2 linked regions of the Homo sapiens genome follow. The protein of the gene in region 2 purifies or fractionates together with the protein of the main gene of each other region. This does not show direct contact. Each region holds a gene or a part of one and is shown on either strand. Other genes may lie near its edges.

Evidence for each region.
Region 1: the proteins of TNS4 (region 2) and QPRT purify together in Homo sapiens (affinity purification with mass spectrometry; one large-scale study listed by BioGRID and IntAct). This does not show direct contact.

Annotation. Positions count from the first base shown.
Region 1 is NC_000016.10:29,695,881-29,699,217, reverse strand, and holds the end of QPRT (nicotinate-nucleotide pyrophosphorylase [carboxylating]), read right to left. Parts: intron 2,226-3,337; coding exon of another isoform or gene 2,223-2,225; coding exon 2,091-2,222; intron 2,020-2,090; coding exon 1,807-2,019; 3' UTR 519-1,806; downstream 1-518. UniProt on the Homo sapiens protein: Involved in the catabolism of quinolinic acid (QA).
Region 2 is NC_000017.11:40,494,833-40,498,649, forward strand, and holds part of TNS4 (tensin-4 precursor), read right to left. Parts: intron 1,689-3,817; 5' UTR 1,594-1,688; coding exon 1,155-1,593; intron 1-1,154. UniProt on the Homo sapiens protein: Promotes EGF-induced cell migration by displacing tensin TNS3 from the cytoplasmic tail of integrin ITGB1 which results in dissociation of TNS3 from focal adhesions, disassembly of actin stress fibers and initiation of cell migration.

The sequences.
Region 1 (3,337 bases), on a different chromosome or scaffold from region 2:
TGGAGGGCTAACCCATTTCTGGGTTTAGGGGGAGCTTAAGACTCAGGCAGGCAGGTTCCTTTCGCTTTTTTAATGGAACGCTGTGGCTGCAACGAGCATTTTCCAGTTGGCCACAGCGCACCCCCACTTTGTCTTATTCCAGTTCCACCCATTTATTTTATCCGAATAGGTCCTGGAGGCACCGAGTTTGCAGCTCCTGGTACCCTCTCCTCACTTCTGCTCTGTCAGGCCCCAATGCCTGCCCAGATCCCAGATCCCAGTTCCCAGATCACCCCGGGGCTCAACTTTCCTCCCTTGATGCCCAGTGGAACCCCTGGTCCCATGGGGCTTCAGTTTCCCCAGTTCAGGCATAAGAAGCTGGGGTTCATCTGAGCGTGTCCATGTTCCCCCTGGAGGAAGGACGGGAGCAGGCAGGGTGGAGCTGGGATTAGAGGGGACAGGGCAGCTGCAGGTGGCACCTCTGGGCTGTGTCCTCTTGTAGCAGGACGAGCCACAGACAAAACTCCTCAGGCACCGGATTAAAGAAGGAAGAGGTTTATTTGGCCAGGAGCATTGGCAGACTTGCATCTTAATAGCTGAGATCCCTGAAAAAGAAATTCTTGGCCTTTTTAAAGGCTTACAACTCTAAGGGGTCCACGTGAAAGGGTCATGATATCTCAAGCAAGCGGGGAACGTGACTGGGGGCTACACGCATCAGCTAACAGAGCAGAAAGTTTTGCAATGCTTTTTCATACAATGTCTGGAATTTACAGATAACACAAGTAGTTTAGGTCAGGGGTTGATATTATTATTATTGTTACTTTTTTTTAACTACCAGGGCCGGGTGGTGTCGCCAAGGTCTTCTGGCTATTTATCTTACTTCTGTTTTGTTTTGTTTTCTAACTTTTTGCTTTCTCTCTTTCCTCCTGTCTTGTAAACTAGGCAAGGTGGGGGGAGGAGGGCAGCAGGAGTAGTAGTGGTCTCCTTCTTACTGTGGGACTGGCCCCTTTGGTTTAGGGTATCACCAAAGGCAGTGTCTAGGCCAGCCCAGTGTCTCTGCCCAGCAAACCTCCATCTGCTGTGCACTCACAGCCAGGCCATGCTGGTGTTTGGTACAGGTTGGGTGCATGAAGGATGAAGGTTTTGGCCTGTCTGGGGCTTTTGCCTGCCTTTCTTCCTTTCTTTCCATCCTTCCTTTCCCTCCCTCCCTCCCTCCCTCTCTCTTTCTCTCTTTCTTTCCTTTGTTTCTTCTTTGGAGACAGAGTCTCGCTCTATCACCCAGGCTGGAGTGCAGTGGCACCATCAGCTCACTGCAACCTCCACTTCCTGGGTTCAAGCGATTCTCCTGCCTCAGCCTCCTAAGTAGCTGGGATTACAGGCGCGTGCCACCACACCCAGCTAATTCTTCTATTTTTGGTAGAGATGGGGTTTCACCATGTTGGCCAGGCTGGTCTCAAACTCCTGAACTCAAGTGATCTTCCCGCCTCAGCCTCCCAAAGTGCTGGGATTACAGGTGTGAGCCATCGTGCCCGGCTGTCCCAGGTAACTTCTGACATTTGCTGACCCCTCACTATGTGCTCATTATCACCGCAGAACCCCATGTGGTTGATCCTTTATTAGACCCATTTTACAGATTAGGAAACTGAGATGAGCAGAGGTGAAGTCAGCCCTGACAGGTCACAGGAGCAGCAGGTGGCAGAGCCAGAGTTGGGCTCAAGCTAGTGCCAAATGTGCCCCATTGGCCACTGACCCTAAAGATGTGTGACCCAGAGGGTCCTGAGGAGCCACGTTAACCCATGGCCGGTGTCATCCTCTTCCGGTTTAGGACTAGTGGATTTTGGGCACTGGAGCCACCTCTTTGGCAAACAGCTTGAGGGAGAAATCAAGGGCTGGGGCCGCCTGGGTCAGCATCCCCATGGAGATGACGTCTATGTGCGGCCCGCAGAACTGGGGGAGGTTGTCCAGGGTGATGCCCCCACTGGCTTCCACAGCCACACTCGGGAACTGGGCCTTCAGCACGGTGGCCGTGGGGTGCAGCTCCTGCGGGACACAAGCCAAGGGGAGGTAAGAGCCCACCACAGATCCCTCCCCGGAGGCAGAGCCCACCTTACCTCTGGCTTGAAGTTGTCCAGCAGGACAAGGTCGGCACCAGCCTCAGCTGCCTGCACGGCCTCCTGCAGGCTGCTGCATTCCACTTCCACCTTCAGAGTGAAGTCAGCCGCCTGTCTGGCCGCCCGCACCGCCTGCTGGGCAGCCGGGAGGACAAGGGTGAGGACTGGGCCCAGCACCTGGCACTGGGGCGCAGGGAGCCGGGAGGGCGAGGGTGACGATAGGGCCCAGCACTGCAGCTGGGGCGCGGGGAGCCGGGACTGACATTTGAAAAGCTTCGGGTGGACCATGAACTTGGGGTTAATAAGGAAACCAGACTTTGGGGTTGTTTTTGCTTTGTTTTGTTTTTGAGACAGGGTCTCAACCTGTCGCCCAGGCTGGAGTGCAGTGGTGCAATGATAGCTCACTGCAGCCTCTACCTCCTGGGATCAAGTGATTCTCCCACCTCAGTCTCCCGAGTAGCTGGGACTACAGGTGCGTGCCACCATGCCCAGCTAATTTTTGTATTTTTAATAGAGACGACGTTTCACCATGGTGGCCAGGATGGTCTCTAACTCATGACCTCGTGATCCACCCATCTCAGCCTCCCAAAGTGCTGGGATTACAGGCGTGAGCCACCGCACCTGGCCACTGTTTTGTTTTTGAGTCAGGGTCCCGCTCTGTCGCCCAGGCTGGAGTTCAGTGCAGTCATAGTTCACTGCAGCCTCCACCTCCTGGGATCAAGTGATCCTCCCACCTCAGCCTCCCAAGTGGCTGGGACTACAGGGGCTTGCCCACAAGCATGGCTAATTTTTTAATTTTTTGTAGAGACAGAATCTTGCTATATGGCCCAGGCTGGTCTCAGACTCCTGGACTTAAGTAATCCCCCCAACTGGGCCTCCCAAAGTGCTGGGATTACAGGTATGAGCCACTGAGCCAGGATGTTTTATTGTAGGTTAAAATGACCACTTTTGTGGGTCAAAAAGTGGATGAATATCAGCAATATTTGGCATTTGGACCTGAGCTCAATTTGACTCAGAATATTAAAATTAGAAGGGGTGTTTAAGGGCATTTCACAGATGGGAAATAAGGTGCAGAGGGCTAGAGAGATGGGCTCAAGGCTGTGGTGCCAGTGACACTGGCTTCCCCTGTGTTGTCCTTTGCTCTTGAACATCACGCCACGCAGCAGCAGAACAAAGATAAAGAACCAATTCCAAAACCAGGCATGGTGGCTTATGCCTATAATCCCAGCACTTTGGGTGGCCAAGGT
Region 2 (3,817 bases):
GTAATATCTTATGGCTCCTATCTCTAATCCTAATCATGCACCCCTTCACCCTTGCTGGTAGTTTAAAGCCTTGGAGGCCTCAGTCTTCCAACCTGTCTGATGGCTGCTCCTTGATCCTCATCAAGAGCATACTTGAAACTCTTTGTTCAGGAAACTGAAGCCAGATGTAGGAATTTCCAGGTTCCTTTGGACTCGGTGGTGCCCTGGAATTGGCTTGTATCAGCTGGTTAAGAGCTGATTGTTAAATTTTCAGGATTTTGTCTAGCTAGTTACTAAACCCAGCCATTATGAATAATTACATTATGTACACTTACAATGAAATAACTTACATTAAAAACAAAGGTAATAAATACTTAAAATTCGTCACGTCCCAATTATTTTACGACAGTGTCTCCCCACCCTCCATACTATTATCTGTGCTCTCAGGGTTATTTACATCTATTGTGTTGGTGTGGTGGCAATGCTGTGTGACAGCCTGCTACTCCACATGTCTCCAGCTCCTCATTCAGTGACATCATGTTGGTAGTTTGAAATTGGCCACAGTGGGAGAATTCATACTGTGGAAATGGGCAGAAGCTTCAAATCAGCTCCCTCTGCCCCTGCTCCCCAACCAGAGAGCCAGGTAAACATTCACCAGCATACCACTGCTTGAACACTACCGGGTCCTTATCCTAAACAGATGCCCCAATCCTACCATTTCCAGCGTGGGCCTCTCCAGAAAGATACTCCCCTAAACAAGGACAGAGGTCCCAATAGCAATCCTACCAAAATTTCAGGGGGGCCCAGGTTAGGCTCTGAAGTGAGACACCCTAGGACAGTGGGGGTCAGGGATCCACATTTATTGAGCTCTTCTTTATGGGCACGGCACTGCACAAAACACTTTCCATAGGAGCTTATTTAAGTCCTCATAAAATCATAGAAAATCAGTATCTATCACTTTCCAAACTCAGGAACCAAATAGAATTGGCTAGTGAGGGAAGCTTGTATTTATCCCCTTTGTGTAGCACAGAAAACAGAGGGGTTAGTAACTTGGTTAGGTTTGCACAGCACCTCCCAACAGGACAGGGTCCCCTTCTCTGTACATAGGAAAATCCTTCTTCCTCATGAGGTCTGGCACCAAGCCCCCCTCCTGGTACTGTGCCCCAAATCCTTACCCAAGGCTTCAGATTCCTCCTTCTTTCTCATTGACATGGTGCTCTGGGCCAGCTCAGCCTGGGAGCCCCCAGTCCCTGGGGGAAGCAGCTGGAAGGTGGGGTCCAGTTCCAGGATCATCTGATTGAGGCTCTCCAGTGAGAAGTCAATGTAGGAGTCAAGGTCCTCTGGGGTCCCCAAGGCCTTCTCACCAGGGGACGGCAGGAAGCAGGTGGCTTTGGCCTCCACCTGTGGGGCTTGCTGGAGTCGGCCAGGGGGCCCCATGCAGGGCACGGGGGCCATCAGGGCCTGGGCTCCCCAGCCTTCCGTGGTGTAGTAAGAACACTGGGGTGGCAGGCTGGGGCTGGGTGCTGGGTGCAGGGTCCTCCTGGGCTCATCACAAGGCGCCAAGCTGACAGCATGGCCTCCTGCCAGCAGTGGGCTGGACATCACCTGGGACATGGTGGGGGTGGTGACCTCTGCAGTTTACCTCTGGTCTTCAACCAGCCTCACTGACATCCCAGAGATCTCACTTGCTAACCAGGAGCTCCCAGGATCTGAAAGAGTCCAAGAGTGGGAACGGAGTAATTTCTGTAGGTGAAGCCCCTGCCTCCCACCCTCCGTACAAAGGCTAAGTTATTCATTCATTTAAAAGCATGGATGCTGGAGCCAGACCACCTGAGTTTGCAGCCTGGCTCCACCACCTACTAGCTGTATAACCTTGGGCAAGTTAATTGACTTCTCTGTGCCTCAGTTCCCTCGTCTATAAAACAAGTTAATCATTGTAATGTGCTTAGAACAGTGCCTGGCACATAATAAGCATTATGTAAGTGATCATTAAATAAAATAACTTCAGTAGATGTTTATTGAACATCTACTACATCCCAGGTGTGTTTATTAAGTAAATACTACCTAACGTTTGCTGAGTAATTATTATCCACATAAGCTCTGGTATTTTTAGATAAAGGCTTTAAAAATCCTTATAACAACTGTATAAGGTAGGTATTATTATCCCATTTTACAGGGAGAGAACTGAGGCACAGAGAGGTAGGTAACTTGCCCAAGGGTCACACTGCCAACAAGTGTAGAGAAGGACTGGGCCCTCGGCTGCCTGATGTCTGAGCACCTGCACTTGGGCCGGTTGGTGAAACAGACAAGTAAGTGGGTGAACAACTGTAAGCAGTGTCACGAGAGAGGAGGGAAGGGACAGTGCACTTTTCTAGTTCAGTGGGGAGGTTAGGGAGGTCTTCCTGGAGGAAGGGACACGCAAAGGGAGATAAGAAGGAAAAGCAAGAGGTAGCTGCGCAAGTTGAGTAGGGATGAGGAGGCAGAGAGGAAGATTTAAGTTAGAGGGGATGAGCTGGGCGTGATGGCTCACACCTGTAATCCCAGCACTTTGGGAGTCTGAGGTGGGCTGATCCCTTGAGGTCAGGAGTTCGAGACCAGCCTGGTGAACATGGTGAAACCCCATCTCTACTAAAAATATAAAAATTAGCTGGCATGATGGCACGTGCCTGTAATTCCAGCTACTCAGGAGACTGGGGCAGGAGGATTGCTTGAAGCTGGGAGGCAGAGGTTGCAGTGAGCCGAGATCGAGCCAATGCACTGCAGCCTGGATGACAGAGCAAGACTCTGTCTCTAACTAAACAAATAAACAAATAAATAAACAAAGTAGAGGGGACCATTTGTGCAAAAGTCTGGCCAGCAGGGAAGCTCACAAGACCCTATTGAGCACCTGAGTAACAGAGCACCTGGGGTGGGTGGAGGAGATGGGGCGGGGGAGGCAGGCTGGCCAGATCCCGTAGGGCCTTGCAGGCTGGGCTCAGGACTGCCAGCTCAACCCTGAGGGCAACAGGGAGGCTCTGAAAAGTTTTGAGCTGGGGAGTGACATCATCAGATGATATTCATTTCCTTGGGGCTCATTTGGGAAAGAGATGTCTCAACCTCCTCATTTTCCTTACTGTGAAAAGTCCTTTCCATTGTCTAACCTTAATGCCACATGCTAGTTTCTTGTAGGTGGGGCTTGGTAAGGAGGTAAGAAGTTCTGGGACTGAGGCTGCCAAGAAAACTGTACAGAGCTGCAATGTGCTGGTTACACTCCCATTGCCTGCTCTGAGCTTTGCTGCTGGTCCCCAGCCCCCACCAACACCCCCCAACTCTCTTTCTTCTCGTTGCCAAAACGCCTCCTTTACGTCCTGTTTTGGAGTCAGACCTTAGCACTGGAAAAGGTATCTGAGACTAGCCTGGGAGAAGAGAAAGTGGACTCTGGGATCCGAAGGTTTAGATTTGACTTCTAGCTCAAATAGCTCCTTATGGTGTGACTCTGACCCTGAGTTTCCTCATCTGTGAGATGGTAATGAGAATTCCTGCACCCTCCCAGAGAGTGTTATGGAACCAGTGAGGTGCTCCTTGTGAAGGTAGTTAGGCAATTCTAAATAGTACTTAGAAATAAGGACTTATGGAGTATAACAGCCTCATAATAGTAGCTTCCATTTATTGAGCGCTGACCATGTGCCAAATAGTTTACATACGAATTACATTGGTAACTCAATCCTCTCACAGCTCTAGGAAGTACTGCACCCTATTGTCAGTCCTCTTGTTTTTTTTTCTTGAGACAAGGTGTCGCTCTGTTGCCCAGGCTAGAGTGCAGTGGCACAGTCATGGCTCACTGCAGCCTTGACCTCCT